Homo sapiens: one gene and its partners. The protein of the gene in region 1 interacts with the protein of each later gene in a pairwise test. Each region holds a gene or a part of one and is shown on either strand. Other genes may lie near its edges. The genes, in order: MAML3, NFX1, ZZZ3, RAI1, NID2 and SCMH1.

The links.
Region 2: the proteins of MAML3 (region 1) and NFX1 interact in a two-hybrid assay, tested with the Homo sapiens proteins (one large-scale study listed by BioGRID and IntAct).
Region 3: the proteins of MAML3 (region 1) and ZZZ3 interact in a two-hybrid assay, tested with the Homo sapiens proteins (one large-scale study listed by BioGRID and IntAct).
Region 4: the proteins of MAML3 (region 1) and RAI1 interact in a two-hybrid assay, tested with the Homo sapiens proteins (one large-scale study listed by BioGRID and IntAct).
Region 5: the proteins of MAML3 (region 1) and NID2 interact in a two-hybrid assay, tested with the Homo sapiens proteins (one large-scale study listed by BioGRID).
Region 6: the proteins of MAML3 (region 1) and SCMH1 interact in a two-hybrid assay, tested with the Homo sapiens proteins (one large-scale study listed by BioGRID and IntAct).

Annotation. Positions count from the first base shown.
Region 1 is NC_000004.12:140,147,685-140,151,184, reverse strand, and holds part of MAML3 (mastermind-like protein 3), read left to right. Parts: intron 1-3,500. UniProt on the Homo sapiens protein: Acts as a transcriptional coactivator for NOTCH proteins. Has been shown to amplify NOTCH-induced transcription of HES1.
Region 2 is NC_000009.12:33,304,016-33,307,515, forward strand, and holds part of NFX1 (transcriptional repressor NF-X1), read left to right. Parts: intron 1-3,178; coding exon 3,179-3,284; intron 3,285-3,500. UniProt on the Homo sapiens protein: Binds to the X-box motif of MHC class II genes and represses their expression. May play an important role in regulating the duration of an inflammatory response by limiting the period in which MHC class II molecules are induced by interferon-gamma.
Region 3 is NC_000001.11:77,564,788-77,567,658, reverse strand, and holds part of ZZZ3 (ZZ-type zinc finger-containing protein 3), read left to right. Parts: intron 1-1,477; coding exon 1,478-1,578; intron 1,579-1,874; coding exon 1,875-2,019; 3' UTR 2,020-2,871.
Region 4 is NC_000017.11:17,680,147-17,684,257, forward strand, and holds the start of RAI1 (retinoic acid-induced protein 1), read left to right. Parts: upstream 1-1,311; 5' UTR 1,312-1,647; intron 1,648-3,399; exon of another isoform or gene 3,400-3,557; intron 3,558-3,918; exon of another isoform or gene 3,919-4,111. UniProt on the Homo sapiens protein: Transcriptional regulator of the circadian clock components: CLOCK, BMAL1, BMAL2, PER1/3, CRY1/2, NR1D1/2 and RORA/C. Positively regulates the transcriptional activity of CLOCK a core component of the circadian clock.
Region 5 is NC_000014.9:52,062,560-52,066,059, reverse strand, and holds part of NID2 (nidogen-2 precursor), read left to right. Parts: intron 1-3,500.
Region 6 is NC_000001.11:41,026,702-41,029,306, reverse strand, and holds the end of SCMH1 (polycomb protein SCMH1), read left to right. Parts: intron 1-561; coding exon of another isoform or gene 562-580; coding exon 581-723; exon of another isoform or gene 724-774; intron 775-987; coding exon 988-1,113; 3' UTR 1,114-2,105; downstream 2,106-2,605. UniProt on the Homo sapiens protein: Associates with Polycomb group (PcG) multiprotein complexes; the complex class is required to maintain the transcriptionally repressive state of some genes.

The DNA of each region.
Region 1 (3,500 bases):
CTCTTGCCCGCCTTCTTCCTCCCTTTTGGAACGTGGCCGTGGGGGAGGGAGCGGGAGGCGCTTTGTCCGCCTCGCGGCCCAGCTCAGACCCCGGGGCCGCTGGGCTGGGAGGGGTGCTGCGCCCCGTGGCCCTGCCCGCTTCATCGCGGCTGTCCCCGCCCCGCCGCGCCCCCCATGCCCCCGCGTCCCTCCTCTCCGCTCCCCCTGCGGCTGAGCCTGCCCCGAGCGCGAAGAAGGGGCCGTCTCGGTTGGTTTTGAGGAAGAACGACAGTTCGAGTCGGGGGAGGTTCTCGCTTTACAAACAGGAAACCGAAAACCACTGACACACTGTAGTTTTTCTGATTGTAGCCGGAGGCGGGGCCGGTCCCGCATCTCGACTGTAGCTCCGGTCCCTTTCTCCAACCTATTTCTCTCCCAGCCCCCGCCCCCCTAGCGCCCTTCCACGGAGGAGGAGATTCACTTTGTGAACCTGAGACTGAGAATTTAAGAGGCACTGAAGGTTTCATGCCTGCCCACCCCGCGTCCTCTTTTCGTGTATTTGTACACCCCACGCGCATGGATTGCGGAGAAATGGGCTCCTTTCGGGAGGCTCCAAAATTCCCGTGCCACAGAATCTCTCACAACCTTTGGGGATCAAGGACTGCTGTGGCGTTTACCTCGCCAGCTGGGGGACCCTGGAACAAAAGCCAGTGCCGTTCCCAGTGCCGGGTCTCTGGACACGGCAAGATGAGTAGAGTTTGCGACCAGAAACTTTCGGTGTTTGGGTTGTGTTCTCTGGTTTCCGCCCTGGTGGAGGGAGGGCTCGGGTGCGCGCGCCTGGTTTGTGATACACTCGCAGGTGGAAGCAAGCCCAGCCTCCTGACCTTACTGGGAAGAAGACAGCAAGCCCAAGCCACAGCTTACTTTTGAAAATAGAAAGATAATGCTTGCTTCAATAGACAGAGACATCAGCTGTAGATTTCATAGTGAATCCCAGTTTAGCAAATTAGCAACAAATAGACTTGAAAGATGACTGCGTGAAAATAAAATTTTCTGTCATTTTATGACAATGATTTAGCCTGTTGATTAGACTTACGCACTAATAAATGCCAGGGCTGTGTACAGAATAGGAGTGTATTTTAGCTTCAGCTGTTTCACATGCATCTCTCACTGGTATGTGTGATGAGTGTGATGAATGTAATGTAAGCCTTAACTCTTAAGCAGAGTTGCAAGTAAATTCTGTGTACCAAAAAAAAAAAAAAAAAAGAAAGAAACATGCTCTACAAGTTATATTTCCTTTTAAAATAATTAGTTTAAAAGTTAACCTTGGCTTCTGAGAGTATTTTAACAGTCTGTATTGAGGTAAAATCTCAAAAATAGAGGTTGTAAAGAAAACGTTGCTCTTCATTTTCTTGAATTGACTGCAGGATTATAGTTGTACTCCAGTGAGGCACAGAACAATTAAATGTAGTTCTCAGATTGGGCGCTCTATTTGGAAAGCCCTAAAGAAAAACAATGATCACCCACAACCAAATAATAATAACGGTGATATAAAAATAAAGATGAATAGGATTCTTTACTGTTTCATTGGTATTGTTTACTTTCTAAGGACCAATATGTCCGAAGTACTAAATATCGATTAATTATCTTTCTGCCTCGCTTGGATTAAGAAGGCAGTCTAATGAGGGCTTTGCCTCTTTTGATTTGTTTTCCTATCTTACACATTTACAAGAATGGGCATGAAAAACAACAACAAAAAAATAGCAAACAAAAAGCAGAGTGGGTGAGGGGTAAAAAATTTTCCTTGGCTCCAGGCTGCCACAGAGGGGGCTGGGTTCTGTGTGAGTCCTCACCAGCCCTGTTGATAGAGCAGGTGGCACAGACCTGGGTTTGAAGCTGCACTACCTCAGGTATTAGGTCCGTTCTGAACATGTAGTCAAATGATCCCATCCCAACCACCACCACTTTATTGACATAGTTTTTTTCTTCCCCTCAAAGACTTGGTGAAAATTATTGACTTCACCTATCAGAGAGCCTCAGTTGAAAAGATGGCTTTTAATTATTTGTGGTAACAAAAGGGGGCATTGTTTATTTGCTGTATTTGGAACTGAGGTCCTGGTTAAAATTTTAAGGCAAATTTCAATTGACAAGTACATTTTCAAGCTGAGCAGGCACATCAAAAAGCATGACAGTGCACAGTTTTCAAAATTTTAAAATGGTGATAGTCTTAGTTGACTTAGATAAGACCATATTATTTTCATGACCTCTTCACTGTATTAGCACCATCGTAACTTTCAGAGTGTGCTTAATTTATATACAGCTTACAGACTGCATAAATCTATGTGACCCCTGTTCTGAAGAGCTTATCACAAAAAATTCATAACATGCATTTAATAATAAATGCGTTATTACCGAGTATTGGAGACAACTACAACCCATCCAAAATGTTCCATCCATTCCTGGAATAGATTCAGGAAATGTCAACATATTAGTCCACTGCTGAATGTCCTTATACGTTAATCTGGCTTCCCATTTCTTACCCTGTTGAAGGTAAATTACTGGCTCTGTATCAATTTTTTTGGCAAGCTCGTATTACCAAGCTATTTCTACATCTTCCCTATGATAACCTTTTCTTTGGCTTATCCTGTTCTGCCGCTAGCATGGGTAACAGGACAGACTGTCTTTCGGAAAGCTTTCCATTGCCCAACACAGCATGCCTTAAGTTTGTGGAAAACTTTTTGAAATTTTGTTTTTTCTGTCCTTCATATGTATTTTTTTCTTTTAATTCTCAAGAAGCATTTTTTTAAGCTCCAATACATGTTTAATTCTATTATGTTATTTGGTTGTGGTATATTTTATTTAGTACTGGGCAGCCAGTGGTCAGAAAAGTAGAAGCAGAGTTAGTTAAGCATTAATCATAATCTACAAAATGCTCTTCAAGCTGAGTTCCTTCCCAGGGAAAGCCAAGTTTTCAGGAAGCTAGTATGCTTGATACTTTCTATCCTGTCTCATTAGAATTATAAGGGCAAACTTTAGAATCTTTTTTAGGATTTCTGCCACCTGATAGGAGAAAAATGGGCAGTCCTGTACATAGTTTACTGACATCTCTGGAAGAAGAAGGATGAGGAATTTAATAGTAAAATAGAGTTATATGGAGTTATTTTCTGAATATCGCTGTGAGACTAATGGCCAACTGTTGTTAAAGAAGTTTTCCTGCCCATTTGGTTGAGATAGGAATATAAGGCATTTCTCTCTCTCATGCATGCACGTGCACACACACACACACACATTCACTCATTCACTCACTCACCCTGGTGTGAGTGTCATAGAAGGGATCCAGTGTAAGAACCTGTTTTGCATGTTAAATAGTAATTCTTGGATATATTTGAAGTACTTGTGTGATTACTGTTCCCTGTTTGTTAAGTAACAGTCCTGTCTTATACTCTTGAGCTTAAAAAGGCTAAATTCTGTTGTCTTTTTCCACATTACCCATCTTGGAGAACTGTGAAATCAATCAAACA
Region 2 (3,500 bases), on another chromosome or scaffold:
CAGCACTTTGGGAGGCCAAGGTAGGTGGATCACCTGAGATCAGGAGTTCGACACCAGCCTGGCCAACATGGTGAAACCCCGTCTCTACTAAAATAAGTTAGCTGGGCATAGTGTTGCATGTCTGTAATCCCAGCTACTTGGGAGGCTGAGGCAGGAGAATCGCTTGAACCTGGGAGGCAGAGGTTGCAATGATCCAAGATCATGCCATTGCACTCCAGCCTGGGCGACAGAGTGAGACTCCATCTCAAAAAAATAAATAAATAAAATAAAAACAAAGAAATCACCAATGACTCCTTTCCAGCCATATCTAGGGCTGATTTTATAAGCTCATAATCTTTTTGGTAGAGTGATAGCCCTTGACACCTTTGACCATTCCCTTCTTGAAATAAGTAGCTCTTCCTGTTTGTTTCTGCATGCTCTCCTTATTTTTCTAACCAATTTGCTCATATTTCTCCTTTCCCATTACTTAGCTAGCAGCTTTCACAAAGAGTCAAGTCATTTACCATCAACTCTGAATCTTCTAGATGCAATACCTTGGTGAACTCTTTGACTTCCCCTTCTTTTCTTTCAATTCTTAACCACAGTATCATTTAAGATCTGACCCCAAACACCCTCTTACAAAGGAAGCTTTCCTTTGTTATTCTCTGTCTCACTTTGGCCTCTGTTTTATTTGGAATTTTCCGGTCTTACATGTTTTATTGACAGAATCTCAGCCTTAATAGATACTAAATTGGTATTAGATGAGGGAATAAATATTCTTGAATATACTACCAGAAAGGCAGCATGAAACTGGAAGTAAGAGATCAGTGGAAATTTGGGCAAATAGGACAATACCAATACTTAATACCTTATTTTGAAGGATTACATAAAGTACCACAATGGAATTAAAAATCTTGTTAAAGCCTCTACTGGCAAATTAGATGAGAGACTCTAAGGCAGTATAAGAATGTGGAGTGAAGGTCAAGATGATCTGAAAGTGGTAAAATGATGTGAGAATGCACATAAAGGCCTTATTTGCAGATGACTTTGCCCCACACTGTTCTTCCAGGGGACCATTAATTTAACATGTTTTTATTGAGAACTTATTAATGTTCAAGGCACTGTGAAGAAACAGAGGCGAATAAAACGGTTAACTTACCAGAGCTTACAGTCTAAGAGTTAAAACACAATTAGCCTGATACTCTGCTAGAAGTACAAAGTACTATGGGAGATCTTTGGGGTAGTTACGACTTACAGCTGGATGATTAAGAGAAGCCTTCTTGGAGGAGGTAGAATTGAACTGGCATTGTAAACTAGGTAAAATCTTTGTAGGCAGAAAGATATGTTGAAGGGAATAGCATAGGCAGTTCAAAATCAACAGGGTTTAGGGTATATTGGGAGAAGAGTGATTCATCCACTTACAGAGCCCAGGATCTATGATGGTAGGGGAGTGGGAGATGACTGGAAAGGAAGGGCTGACCCTTTGATACCAGTCTCAGATGTTGGGACTTCATTTGGAAGGCTGTGGGAAGCCACTGAGGGCATCAACATGATTCTTTATGGAGATTAGTTTGGTAGCAGTGAGTAGAGTATTTTGGAGCCTAAATAATTTGGGACTTATAATCCAGATGAAGAGTAGTACAAGCCTCTAAGGAGTGTGATAGAAAAATATGGTGTTAGGTTGATTCCTGACAGTAGTAGGAATGGGAGTCACCCAAAGTTTCATGCTTTTGGAAATGGTGATACCAAGGAAAAGGGCAGGTCAAAAGAAGAAGGTCTGGTGGGGACAGTGACTACAGTTTAGAAATGTTGAGCTGGAGGAGTGAGCAGAACATACAGTGAAATATGTCCAACAGGCAGGTAGCAATATTTGAGGAAAGACCAGGACTTAAGGATGAGAATCACAGCTGAGAGGAGTAGTTAAGACCCTAGCGGATGAAAGGGTACAGAGTGAGAAAAGGGTGTAATGCAGAACACTTGCAGGGGAAAGAAAAGCAAAAAACCCCAAAACATCATTTGGAGTCAGGGACAAAAGGTAGAGCTCTTGAGAGATGTTAGAGGAAAACCAGGGCACTGTATTGGAGCAAAAAAGCACAGAGGCAGGGAGGCTTTTGTGATAGTCTGGAGATGAGGTTTTGGCCAGTTAGAGAGGCAGGAACAGGAGAGCGATGAGGTGAGAGCCACTTTGTAGGAAAAATTGACACAACTTGGTGATTAAGTAGAAAGAGGTGTCAGAGATGACTGTAGTTTTTGAGCGTGTGTGACTCTGACAGAGTTGACGTCACTGACAGAAATAGGAAACCCTGAAAAGGGAGGAGTTATAGAGGGAAGATGTGAACTTTGACTGTGGATAAAGCCAGTTTGAGGTGACTGTGAAACCCCAAGCAAGAATGTTCAGCAGACATTTGGACATATGGGTCTGAAACTGAAGATTCAGGGCAAGAGAGAAAATGTGGATTTGGGGATCAATGGCCTTTAGGTGGATTGCACCTCTCAACATGAATAAAATTTCTGAAAGAGATAGTATAGAGAGAAAAGCAGAGGCCATGGACTGGGGATGGCTGCAATTTAGTGTGCAAATTGCCCAAGTGAGGATGAATTCCTCAAGGGCAAGGAGGAATCCTGTGCCTTCGTTTTACTCTTCCCTGTCTCTGCTGAGTCCATGGAAGATGTGCCATGAAGATTTGCAGTGACATTGATTATAAAAGTATAAGGTCTTTTATGCCGACTTTATAGTTCTGGAATAGGTGAGTTCCTGCTACTCGGGATTTATGTCCTTTCCATTTCTTACTGCCTCCCCCCTTTCCCCACGGTGCTCTTCTCTTATTCCCTCTCTCTGATCCTTCCAGCAGCAATTCGCATATCAGTTCAGAAGTCCAGTTATAGACGACTTGTCTTATAGGTATTTATCTTAAATTAAACGTTTCCATTAGTCAAGATAGTATTTTCGTAAGTAAAAGTGACTTTTTATTTATCTTTCCCAGGTAATCCAAGATTTAAGATTTATCATACTCAGTGAAACTTTTTATGAATAGCATTATATTTATCTTTTTATTTTAAGATATGGGATAATACATTTGTTGAAATAATAAAAACCACACTAAAGTTGCATGCTGCCTAGCTATACTTTACTGTTTCATTAAAGTTGAGAATGTGGTTGAAGTTTGTACCATTGACTCTCTGATCTGATATGTTCTAGGCAAGGTAAAGAATCCTGAGTGGAGCAGAAATGAAATTCCACATAGCTGTGGTGAGGTTTGTAGAAAGAAACAGCCTGGCCAGGACTGCCCACATTCCTGTAACCTGTAAGTTGGAATGCTAATTCCGTTGGGATTGCTGGTGGACATGCTTTGCTGGTGGCTCTAAGTAAACATACCTGGTTAGCATGTAATGGTTTGGGATGAAGGGTGATATGGGACCTCAGTAAATGGTCTCAAATCACCCTGTGCCAGGCACTCTACATCAGTTAACTTGTTGAATCCTTACCACAGCCCAGTAATAGATATTTACCATCTCTGCTT
Region 3 (2,871 bases), on another chromosome or scaffold:
TTCATTCTCATAAGGAATTTAGAGAAGTTAAACAAAATAGTTGAGCGTGGCTAGAGTACATACTAGAGAGTAGTTAGAGGCTGCTTGCACCGCCTTATAAATTTTGCCAAGGAGCTCACACTATCCTGAGAGGTTGGTGGGGGGAACCATTGAATGATTTTAAGCAGAAAGTAACATGACATTTACGTTTTGGAAAGAATCATTCTAGTTACTTAAACTATTGGGGGTGATGATCTTTAGGAAAGCAGTGGGTTTGGAACTGACCAGCTTTTCCCCTCATCATTTTGGCCATAGTATGGAAACTTAATTAGAGGAAGGCAAGACTAGAGTCAAGGAAACTGGTTAGAGATTCTTTTGATAATTTAGACAAAAGAGGAGGGTGTCCTGAACTTGACTGGTGGCCATGGAAATAAAGATTGGCAAGTTTGAGAAGCCTTTAGGCATTAGAATTGACTTGGTTGGACTGGAGGAAGTAATAATGAGACCATAAACTTGGTGGTGTTGGTGGGTGCACATGAAAGTACTGATGTGTGCTGTGACTGGTAAACCAAATTAAAAACAAAGTTATACCTTTGATCCTCTAGAGTAGCCAGTAACCATACTATATTAAATGATTTTCCCTCTTGATCTTTCAGTGACCCTGTTTCTCCAATAGAGATTTTCCTAACTGGCAGCTCTGGCCTTTCAGAAAAACTTGCTTCACTTCTCCTAATTTTGCTGCAAAACCCAGCCATGGCTTGTTTGCCATTCTGTCAGCCACTATAGTTGACCAGATGATCAAAGAAACTAGAAATGATAGATCCTTTGATTTCCAAAAGTGCACAGAACACACTGAGGACTGTCACAATGCCACCACGCTGAGAAAGAGCTAGATCTGCCTTTTTGACATGATGGGCATTGGTTATTAGGAGTCTTTAGGCTTTGGGAGAGCGATTCAATAAGAGATAAAAGTTTAGACAGAATTTCATTGTTGCCTGGGTTTATGTTAGCCAAGAGAACCTGCTAAAACAATTCTGTATCAATTACCAACAGTGAAGCACTACAGGAGGCAGCTGTGGCATTGCTTCCTTAACCAGTATTTGGATAGTTTTAACTATGGTATTAACTCTCTGTTTCTCAACCATAGTCATCATACAGTGGTCTGAGGTACCTTTCAAGTAGATGATTACAAATAACAAAACACCCAAGTTGGAGATGATTTACTTTTAAAAATTTTTAAATAAATTTAAGCTGATTGAAGATTATCCCTTCCAATGTTCCTCTCACTCACCCATATCTTGATATTGAGTGGATGGAATTTTACCTAGTTTGCTAGAAATTGTCTCTAACACATAACCATTTGTGTGTTATATTACTGTCCTGTGCATGGAGAGAGAAGAGAAGATGTCTGTGTGCACATCATGTGTTTCCTTGTGGAAAATAAAAAAGATCGTGGAACAGTATAACTTAATACATTTTCTCTCTGAATCTGTTATAGTGTGATAACTGTGGCATAGAACCCATCCAGGGTGTTCGGTGGCATTGCCAGGATTGTCCTCCAGAAATGTCTTTGGATTTCTGTGATTCTTGTTCAGACTGGTAAGTGTTTTCTTCATTGTCAGTCTTCAACTTAGACAAGAAAAGAGCTTCTCAGCCATTAGTGAATTTGATTTCCAAACATAGAAAATATTAATACCCACACTTAGTGAATTAAATTTTGTTGTTCTAGGCAATTAATTTTTTTCTGTAATCATACCACATGTCAAGTAACTTTCCGTTGGAGATTTTGATAGATTAATGGATTTAAACAGGGAGAGCTGTGAGGAAGCTTTGTAATACACAGACTAAAATGCATCCACTACCATGTAATGATGTGTGTCTTTTTTTCTTTACAGTCTACATGAAACAGATATTCACAAGGAAGATCACCAATTAGAACCTATTTATAGGTCAGAGACATTCTTAGACAGAGACTACTGTGTGTCTCAGGGCACCAGTTACAATTACCTTGACCCAAACTACTTTCCAGCAAACAGATGACATGGAAGAGAACATCATTTACTAGTCCTCTTCAACACATAGCAATGGTATCATTGTTAATTATGTGCACAGTTTGGAAAGATTCTCTGCTTTCCCAGAAATGACACTCACAGCATGAGAGCTTCCTGAGTGTTCTCGTCAAGTACAGCTCTGCACCGTTGTGGCTCTAGATCACTGTTCAGCAGCTGAACATTCCTGGTGAGCAAAGGTTTCCCTGGTGAATTTTTCACCACTGCGTTTTAGGTGGTGATCTTAAATGGGTGAGATGGAACGAGAGCACACATTAAAGAGAGAGTAAATTCCAAAGGTTTCAAAGAACTTGGTCATAAATATGATAATGAGAAGACAAAGTATTTATATTAAAACAGTTTAGTAGCCTTCAGTTTTGTGAAAATAGTTTTCAGCACAGAAACTGACTTCTTTAGACAAAGTTTTAACCAATGATGGTGTTTGCTTCTAGGATATACACTTTAAAAGAACTCACTGTCCCAGTGGTGGTCATTGATGGCCTTTAGTAAATTGGAGCTGCTTAATCATATTGATATCTAATTTCTTTTAACCACAATGAATTGTCCTTAATTACCAACAGTGAAGCACTACAGGAGGCAACTGTGGCATTGCTTCCTTAACCAGCTCATGGTGTGTGAATGTTATAAAATTGTCACTCAGATATATTTTTTAAATGTAATGTTATATAAGATGATCATGTGATGTGTACAAACTATGGTGAAAAGTGCCAGTGGTAGTAACTGTGTAAAGTTTCTAATTCACAACATTAATTCCTTTAAAATACACAGCCTTCTGCCTCTGTATTTGGAGTTGTCAGTACAACTCATCAAAGAAAACTGCCTA
Region 4 (4,111 bases), on another chromosome or scaffold:
CAGATGCAGGATTCACTTGTCCCAGGTCACCCACAAGCTCTGATGCCTTGACCAGCTCCCCTCTGCCCTACCAAAGGACAAATGAGGGAGGCTTCGATGGGGCTGTTAATGGGGTCATATCCCACAGACCCTAGAGCCTGGGTGGGGCTGAGAGGCTTCCCAAGCAGGTGGCAGTGAGCTCCCACCTGAGCTATGGCAAGTAGAGACCTAGGCATGAAATTGCTCCGAGGTCTGTACCTTAAGTTTCATGCAAGGACTCTCTCATTCAACATGCCTCTGTTTAAAGTCTGCCAGTGGCTACCTTCCTTGCACTAGAATTGCAAACAAATTCCTCACTGAGCTCTCTGCAGCCCTGCAGGCTCTGGCCCTCCCGATATGGCTCTGACTTCAATGTGCCCATTACTTGTCCCCTTGCTGACGGCCTCCTCACAATTCCACTTACTCACCAAGTTCTCTCCTGCCTCAGGACCTTTGCACTTGATGTTCTTTCTGCCAATGATGCTCTTCCCAGGAGGGCAGGCCCCTGTAGTCCCAGCTACTCAGAAGGCTGAGGTGGGAGGACTGTTTGAGGCCAGGAATTCAAGTTCGGCCTGGGCAACACAGCAAGACCCTGCCTCTAAAAGAACAAAATGCTCTTCCCAGACTCTACCCATGGCGGTTCCTCTTGCTATTTAGATCTTTGCACAGACAGGCCTCCTTCTCTCTCCCCCAGCCAAGGAGCCCTAGCCGTCACTTCACCTGCTAATTTTCGTCCTAGCACTTACTGCTCTAAAATTATCTTCGTCATGTATCTAAGCATTTGTTTGCTGTCTGTCTCTTCCCACCAGGATGCCAGCTCCACGACAGCAGGGACCGCATTGTCTCTGCTGATTCCTCAAGACTCAGCAAGGTGCCAGGTGCCCAGTAAATGAAGTTTACATGAAGCCAATGGAGTTTTGAAATCGAAAATGTTTCTCAAACTGCAAAGAAGTGGGCACAGGTGAGGGCTAATGGTGGGGTGAGGGTGGGGGCCTGGCCTGACGCTGGAAGCTCCTGTACGCAGGGCGCTAGTGTCCTCCCAGGCCGCACCGGGATCCCACCGCAGAGGCCCCCTCCCGCAGGCCGGCCAGCGGGCGGGGGGCGCGCAGTGGGGCGCGCGGACCGCCAGGGGGTGCTGTCGGGGCGCGCACGGCCCACCTGGCGCCCGGGGCCGCGAGCGAGCGCAGCCAGGCCGCCCGGGAACTTTTTTCCTCGCGCTCTTGCTCTCCTTCTCCCCCCGCGCGTCGCCCGCCCGCCCGTCCGCTCGTCCGCTCTTCCTGTGCGGAGGGGATCGCATTCCTCGCGGCACCCGCGGACACCAGGCAGGCCCGGCCGGGTGCGCGGCCAAGGCCCGCTCCCCGCGTCCCCGGGCGCCGCCCCCGCCCGCGGCTGGGCTCCGAGAGACGAGTGGGAGAGCGAGTGCAGCGAGGGCGAGAGGCGAGCCGAGCAGGCCGCCCTGCCCGCGGCCCTAGCGCCGGCGCGAGGAGGGGGCGCCGCGGCCCACCCTCCTTCCTGCCTGGCCGCGGGCCGGCCGGGCCGCCGCGCCCCGACCCCCATGGCCACCCAGGCCTCCGGGCCGCGAAGTCGCAGCGCCAGACCCAAGGCCCCCGAGTGAGCGCGGGCGCCGAGGTGAGCAGCGAGCGCCGGGGCGCGGGGGGCGCAGTGTATCCTGCCCCGGGGCGGGGGCGGCGCGAGGCGTCGGGATCCTAGGCCGGGTGATGAGCCGAGGCGGGTTCGGACGCCGAGCGCGCGCGCTGGGTGGAGATGTGGGGTCCGCGGGGTCCTTGCTTTGTGTGGTGTGGGGGGTGCGCGAGGTCACCGGATGGACGTCTGGGGAGCTGCAGGGTGGGGGCGCCCTGCGCCGCGGCTGAGGGTCTTCTGGGGGATGTGCGGCCAGCTGAGGTCGGGTGGGGGCATGGGGGCGCGAGGGGCGAGTGTGGCAAGGGATCTGCTTGCGCCGAGGCGCGGAGTCTTTGCGGAGCGTGGGGTGGGGACGTGGGGTGCATTCGCGGGGCGCCGGGGGCGGAGGTGAGCTTTGTGAGTGCGTCCGAGGTGGGGGACGGGGAGCTGACTTCCCCATGCGTGACCCGGGCCCGGCGTGGCCATCGCTTGGGAGTCAGGGCCGGCGAAGGCCGTGCGTGGCGAGATGGGTGCTCGGGCTCTCTGCGGTGTCCCTACCCGGGCAGCGGCCCCGGGGCCTGTGCGCAGGCCCCGAGGCCGGGCAGGAAGCGGCCCCCGCGACCTGGGGAGCTCTGTAGCGGCCAGGCCCGGGAGGCACGGGCCCTTCGGGGATGACGTCACGGGCGGGGGCCCCGGACACGCGAGCCTTGCGCCCCACAGACGGCGGCGCAGCCCGCCGCCCTTTTCGAGGCCGGCCCCCCCTCTCACGCGCCTTGAAGGCAGGGAACCCGGGAGGAGGACATGGGGGCCGAGTGCGGCGGGGACAAGGGGTGGCAGGACGCGAGGGTGACATTTGGAGCCTGGTCGCGCCAGGGGCCTCCGTGGTGGGGCGGAGGGGAAGCGAAACACCAGCCAGGCCCTAGGCCGTCGCGGCCCCAGCTTCCTGGGGCGCCCGTTTTCCCGGCTAGCAGTTTTCTTTCTTGGGGCTCTTGGTCGTTATCCAGTCCACGCAGGGGCCGGAGTGCGGGCTGCCGCGGTGCTCTCCTGCGCGGAGCCCGGGCTGGCGGGGGCGCGGCGGGCCTCGGGCTCTGAATGGATGGGAGCGAGTGTAACAATGCGCCGGTGGGGGCTGGGGGAGGGGAGGCCGCGCGCCTGAATGGCGGAGCCGGCCGGGCGCTGCTCCGCGCGCCGCACACTCTCCCGCGCCGCCTTCCCCGCGGTTTCGGCGGGCCCGGATTCAGGGACCCACTCGGGATCTGCACGGTTCCTCCCACCAATACTGTCCCCCGCCCCCCTTTTATGTCTTTCCAATGCAGTAGTGTGTTGAGAATTCAAGGGCATTACATCTGGTTGCAATCCAGTTTCATGCCGCTGCCGGGCTGTTAAGACCTCGCGCTGACGTCAGAGCAGGGGAATTACTTCTTTTTATTTTATCTTTTTTTAGTTGTCTGCTGCCCTGGGAGGAGAGGCGGGGGTGGGTTAGGCTAGCTCTGATGTGGAGGCGCCAGCGTGATGGGAGCCCCGAGCTGGGGGCTCTGCTTCTCTTCCTGCCCCTGCCCCCCTCCATTCTCCATACAGTCCTCGCTCTGCTCAGGGTCAGGCCCACCCCAGGTGGGGGGCAGCCCTCGCTGCAGACTGAATGGTGGCCCCTCCCTGCTGACCACACAGCTGGGTTTTCAGAGGCTTTCCTGGGACGTGGCCCTCGGGATCTAGAAACTGGAAAGGAATCTTCTAGTTTCCCACCCCTCCCCCTCTTGACAGGCAAGCCGGTATATTCGGGGCCCAGGAGCAAGGAAAAGTGGCCTTTTGCGTGACACAGAAGTGGACACATCATTCTGATCTCAGGGCAGGCTCAGCCCCATAACTCTGGCAAAAGCTCTCACAAGCAAAAGCCTTGGAGAGGAGGAGAATGTATCAAGGTGAGATCCAGGCCCCAGAAGCCAACTGTGGAGTGGGCAAAATAGGACCTTTCCCACCAGCCTAGCATCCCTCTGGCTTCTGTGGAGATAAAGGGAACTCAGGGGTACTGGAGCTGCCTTTCTCTTCCACTAGACTGTGGGGCTCTCATAGGCAGGGACCCTGTCTTACTCCTCTTTGTTTTATTTTTGAGACAGGGTCTTGCTGTGTGGCCCAGGCTGGAGTGCCTTGGCACAAACACAGCTCACTTCAGCCTCAACCTCCAGGGCTCAAGCGATCCTCCAGCATCAGTCTCCTGAGTAGCTGGGATCACAGGCGCCCGACACCACACGTAGCTAATTTTAAATTTTTTTTTTTTTCTAGAGACAGGGGTCTTGCCATGGCTGGTCTTGAAGTCCTGGGCTCAAGCGATCCTCCCTCTTTGGCCTCCCAAAGTGCTGGGATTACAGGAGTGAGTCACTGCACCCAGCCTTACTCCTCTTTAGACTCCCAAGCCTAGACCAATTGCTTTCAAATTCTTGCCCGTGACCTATAGTAAGAAATACATCGTAGGTAA
Region 5 (3,500 bases), on another chromosome or scaffold:
GAAAACTAGAAATACCATTTGACCCAGCCATCCCATTACTGGGTATATACCCAAAGGACTATAAATCATGCTGCTATAAAGACACATGCACACGTATGTTTATTGCGGCACTATTCACAATAGCAAAGACTTGGAACCAACCCAAATGTCCAACAATGATAGACTGGATTAAGAAAATGTGGCACATATACACCATGGAATACTATGCAGCCTTAAAAAATGATGAGTTCATGTCCTTTGTAGGGACATGGATGAAATTGGAAACCATCATTCTCAGTAAACTATCGCAAGAACAAAAAACCAAACACTGCATATTCTCACTCATAGGTGGGAATTGAACAATGAGATCACATGGACACAGGAAGGGGAATATCACACTCTGGGGACTGTGGTGGGGTTGGGGGAGGGGGGAGGGATAGCATTGGGAGATATACCTAATGCTAGATGACACGTTAGTGGGTGCAGCGCACCAGCATGGCACATGTATACATATGTAACTAACCTGCACAATGTGCACATGTACCCTAAAACTTAGAGTATAATAAAAAATAAATAAATAAATAAATAAATAAATAAAAAAGAAAGGGGAAAAAAAAAAAAAAAGAAAGGAGGATTCTGTTTGGATAGGGGATGTTCTTTCAATTACCCACATTGAAGTTTCTTCCAATATTTTAAAGAGCTCTGGGACTTGAGTTCTTGTTTTAATAGTTCTTTGGAGATAGACTTTGGCAAACAGTAATCTAATTTGCTTGAAGGACTGAGTTCTACATGGCGTTCTTAAAGTTTGGCTTACTAACTTTATATTGCAAAGTTACTGGAAACTGGAAGATTCAAAGCAATGGCATCTTTGCCATTAAAAACAATTGCAGTTGGTGCCCTTTTTCTCCATGGATATTCCTGTCAGGTGTGACCAGATGTTGCACCTGATATTGCAGGAATGTCAAGGTGTAATTGTATCTGAAAAAAAAATGTGAACAAATAGTGTTTGTCAATTCAGTTAATCTGAGATTTCTTGAACTCTCATAGGTAGTTCACAGAGCAAAAAAGTTATGGTGTAGACCTTTGAAATACTTATTGATGGGAGACATAGAGGACTAATGTTTAGCTGTGCTTTTTGTGGGGAAAGAGGAGTGTTTTGTTTTTGTCATTTTAGGGATGGGGTTAGAGACAGCTGAGTTATATAGATCTCTGTAATGTGGGGAATGTTTTGTTTATCTGGAATTTAAGTCAGGTTGAAAGGGCTAAAAAGAATGGATATTGAGAATGAGGTATCAAGAGAGATTGTTCTGAGCAAAAACATGACCCAGGAGAAGGTTGAGAGAGCAACCTATTAGCAAAGGGGCCAGAGAAATGGATGAAGGAGTCACAGGCAGTAACATAAGACAGATGAGTGCAAGGTTGCCCGCTATGGTTGAATATTTGTCCCCTCTGAAAATCATGTTGAAACTTAATCCTCAATGTGACAGTATTGAGAGGTGGGGCCTTTGAAAGGTGACTGGGTCATGAGGGCTCTGCCCTCAGGAATGGATTAATTTATTCATTCATGGATTACTGGATTATCATGGAGTGGGCCTGGTTGCTTTATAAGAAGAGGAATTGAGACCTGAGCTAGCACATTAGCACACTCAGCTTTGTCGCCATGTGATACCGTAAGTACCCTGGCACTCTGCAGTCACCACTAGCCAGAAGGCCCTCACCAGATGTGACCTCTCAACTTTGGACTTCTCAGCCTCCATAATTGTAAGAAGTAAATTCCTTTTCTTTGTGAATTACCCAATTTCAAGTATTTTGTTGTAAACAACAGAAGACAAATTAAGACACTGCCCAATGGAGGCCTCCATCTGGGTGGAGACTGAGACATGTTGACTTGGTTCAAAGGTTGATAGTCATTGATGGAGGTGGTTGGATTTCACAGAGAAAATGAGAGGTAAAAGCAGGACTTTATTGTAGCTTTTTGACTTCTGGAGACAAGGTTTAGAAGAGGGGTGGTCTACAGCCCATCCAAGAGAGTTCAGACTGAGTCTGAGATATCACTGTGAAGATGAAGAGAATAGAGACATATATGGAAATTGGTTAATGCTGAACCATATATGGAAATTAGAAATGCTGACGTTTTGCTGAAGAGTATCAGGAAGGATATAGTATTAGGGATGTGATAGCACTCAGCATTTGTCTTTGAATTTTTGGCAGGATCTGTAGGATTTAGTGCAGTAAAATAAATGAGGGACAGTCCCCCATGTGACAGTGTCCTACAGGCAGTGGGAGATGAAGAACTACACTAAGGAATGGAGGTTAGTGTTCACAGCAAACACTGGAGGCCAGACCCAATGATCCTAGAGCTCTAGAGGACATGTGGTCCTGAGGAAGATGACAAAGAGAACTTTGTGACCCCTATAAGAGTCACCCTAATTCTTCATTTCCATTTTCATTTTCATTTTGATAAGCCTCTATAGGCAAGCCCCTTGAAGAAAAGGATGTCACTATTCTGATTTTTGTCCAGATAGCTGCAGTTAATTAAATGAATTGAAAAAATTAGAAACTCTTAGAGGGGTGTATGTTGCATGCATCAGCCTGGCTCTGATGAGTGTCACTTCAACATTGATTGGGATGTCCTGTACCTGGGAGGGAGAGTCAGGCTCTGGTTTCTGCAGAGGGCTCTGGCTTTTCTCTCTTTCTGATAACAGGGCCTGCAGCCACTCACCCTGATCCTCTCTGTGCTGCTCCTCTCCCTGTGGAGGCCCCTCTCTCCTCTCTGGGATCCTGGGGGAGCTGGGAACCAGTGACTCGTTTGTCAGGTTTGGCAGCCCATCTGAGGGCTTCTCTTTGGAGACAGAGCCTGTGCGGCTCTTGCAAAAGCTTGTATCTAGGAATGTGAGGACCTTTCCTGTTTGGAAGCCAGTCAAGGAGTTTTTTGAGAGGGGGAGCCCTTCAAGACTTCATGAAGTGGGCTCTTTAGCAATTAGATGTAGAATTTTGTAGAACTGACCAAGAACTTTACAAGTGATCATTTAGTGTGTGGGTGGCTTTTAAACAGCCAAACTCTTTTGGCGTGTACTTTGGGATCATAAATTCTACTTAAAAGGAAGTTGTTTCCTTCCTCTGATATTTGCCTATTTTGGTGGAGACAAAGAAATTAAATACTTGCCACCCATAATGAGTGCTCATCTCAAGAACAGTATATAGAAGATGTTGAATAAATTTTAATTGAAATGAATTTGTTGGCTGGTTGAATGAATGAATGAATAAAATAAAGTGCTAAATGCCCAGAGTTCACAGCAAAAAGTCAGACTCTCCTCTTCACAGCTCTGTTTACTACTCTCTTCCCCCCTTCCCCATCCCCTTCAATTCTTCACAGTCTCTACAACCTCCTTATCTTATGGAATTTCTCTAAATTTAGAACCAGGATTCTCTCCTATCTCACATTTATTATGGCAGATCAATGCCAGGAGCTTTGAAAGCTTAGCTTTTTGAAATGGGGTTTTTTCTCCTTCCTCTAGTAC
Region 6 (2,605 bases), on another chromosome or scaffold:
TGGGAGGCAGAAGTTGCAGTGAGCTGAGATGGCGCCACTGCACTCCAGCCCCTGGGTGACAGAGCGAGACTCCATCTCAAAGAAACCAAAAAACCAGCTTCTGCCTTAGTGTATCAGGCTGTAATGAGGTCACCTATTCTCCAGGCCTTGGAAAAGAATCCAGGGTATTTTTTGCCCACGTGCCAAGGATTTGTCTCTAATCTTACCAGGCTACCAGTCTCTCTAGAAATGGTCCCCCAGAGCCAAGGCAAAAACAGCCCCACTCACCAGGCCCCCCAGACACCCAAATAGTCCCCTTACCATGTTGGTACCACTGTCTCAGGTTTGGGCTGAATCATAGCCTCAATGCAAAATTTCTTCTGGCCATTTCCAAAAATCAGATCTACCCTTAAAAAACAAAGATTTGGCTTTCCCTTTGTGAAGAAATGCTTCCCTCCCCCAGCTATCTCCAGTTCCTCAGCTCATCGTCTGGCACTACTGTGAGCATCACCTAGAAGGCCACTGAGATGTGCCAAGGAGAGTGGTGGGGATTTACAAACCAGTCCCCGCCCTTTATGGTAGGTGCCCTCCTGTCCTGCAGGGTCGGACCGATACCTGGAGAGCCGCGATGCCTCTCGACTGAGTGGCCGGGACCCCTCCTCATGGACAGTCGAGGATGTGATGCAGTTTGTCCGGGAAGCTGATCCTCAGCTTGGACCCCACGCTGACCTGTTTCGCAAACACGTAGGTGCTGCTGCCTGACCTCTCAGTAGGAACCTGTGTGGAGAGCCTCACCTGGTGGGGACAATACGAGATGTTTGGGGAGGAGGGATGCTTAGAGACAAAGGCTGAGGAGAACAGGTAGGCTTCAGCATCACAGCAGGTGAACTGGACTCCATGTGGCGGGCACTTCCCAGGATGGCCTATAATCAGAACCTGGGGTGGTCAGACCAACCAGGACTCTGATGGTGCCTCCCTTCCACTTCTGCCCACCTCCCCACCCCCCAGGAGATCGATGGCAAGGCCCTGCTGCTGCTGCGCAGTGACATGATGATGAAGTACATGGGCCTGAAGCTGGGGCCTGCACTCAAGCTCTCCTACCACATTGACCGGCTGAAGCAGGGCAAGTTCTGAACCAGGAGAGGCAGCCTAGACAACCAAGTGGCAGCAGGTGGGGGCATTCTTCTAGGAATGAGGGGCATCAGCCCACCCCAGGCACCTCAGTGGGGTTCCGGGCCACCTCAGGACTCCAAGAGGCTGTGTGGAGCCACCACTCCTAGCCACAGCTGCCATGATAAGTCCTTCCATGAAGGACTGAGGAGGGAGAGTGGGGGTCCAGGGCTGGTGCTGCTCTTCCCTCAGCTCTGCCGGGGCTCTAAGGTCCCTCTATTTATTTCTCAACCCTGGCTGGCCTCTCACCAGGAGTTTAGGCTGAATGCCTTCCACGTGATGGAGGAAAAGGCCAACTCTGTCCTGGTCTTGCTGTGGCACCCCATCGCCCCACAGCTCGTACCTTCTCACCAGATTCCCCTGAATCCAAACTCGTGGTGCAAACCTCTACCTTTTTTACAAAAAGATCTTATTGTTAATTTATTGTTTCTGGCACTTGGGCAAACCCTGTAGTTAATACTCCTCCCACACTAGACACTGGGTTTCAGGAGGAGGGAGACTGCCCTGCTTTGGTCCCAGAGAGGCCCTCTGCAGATAGGCGTGGCCCCTCTTCAGAGGACACTACCCTAGGGCACTTTCTCTTTGAGGTGGAGAGACCCATAAAGCCTTGACCACATCACTCCATATGGGGAGGAGAAGGATCCCTGTCACCTTCTCCTCTCTTCACGGGGCCCTTTTGCAGCCCTAGGCCTCATCTGTGGGAAGGGAGTCCCTGGCTTATACTGCCCCCACCACAGCTCCTTGCCCTGGCCAGAACTGCTGTCGAAGAAAATCAGGCCGGAAGGCCAAGAAGGCGCTAAGGGGGATGGGAGGGCAGGTTTTCCAGGCTGGAGTCGGTTCCACCCACTCGCCTGTCCACAGGCTTCCTTGTAAGCAAGTCAGCAGCACAGCTACTCACGCTGCCATCTGGACTTATTTTATGTCAATCTGTTTATAAATAAAAACCAATATAGATACCAGTGTCTTTTTAATCAGTTAACAGCCAAATCACTACGCATTCATTGGACCAGTCATTCCCCTTCTCTTGGTCTTAGTTTTCTCATACATAAAACGAGGCCGAGCACGCTGGCTCATGCCTGTAATCCCAGCACTTTGGGACGCCAAGGTGGGAGGATCTCTTGAGCTCAGGAGTTTGAGACCAGCCTGGGCAACATGGTGAAACCCCAGCTCTACAAAAAAAAAATACAAAAATTAGCCTGCTGTGGTGGCGCACACCTGTAGTCCCAGCTGCTTGGGGAGCTGAGGTGAGGGGATGGCTTGAGCCTAGGAGATCGAGGCTGCAGTGAGCCGTGTTCGCACCACTGTACTCCAGCCTAGGTGACAATTTGAGACCCTGTCTCAAATAAATAAAATGGAGAGCTTGGAAAAAATGATTCCTAAGCGTCCTTCTAATTCCAGCAGTCCCTAAAGAACAGGTGGTCTTCCGAATGTCCACCAGAGCCCCAGCATCACACAG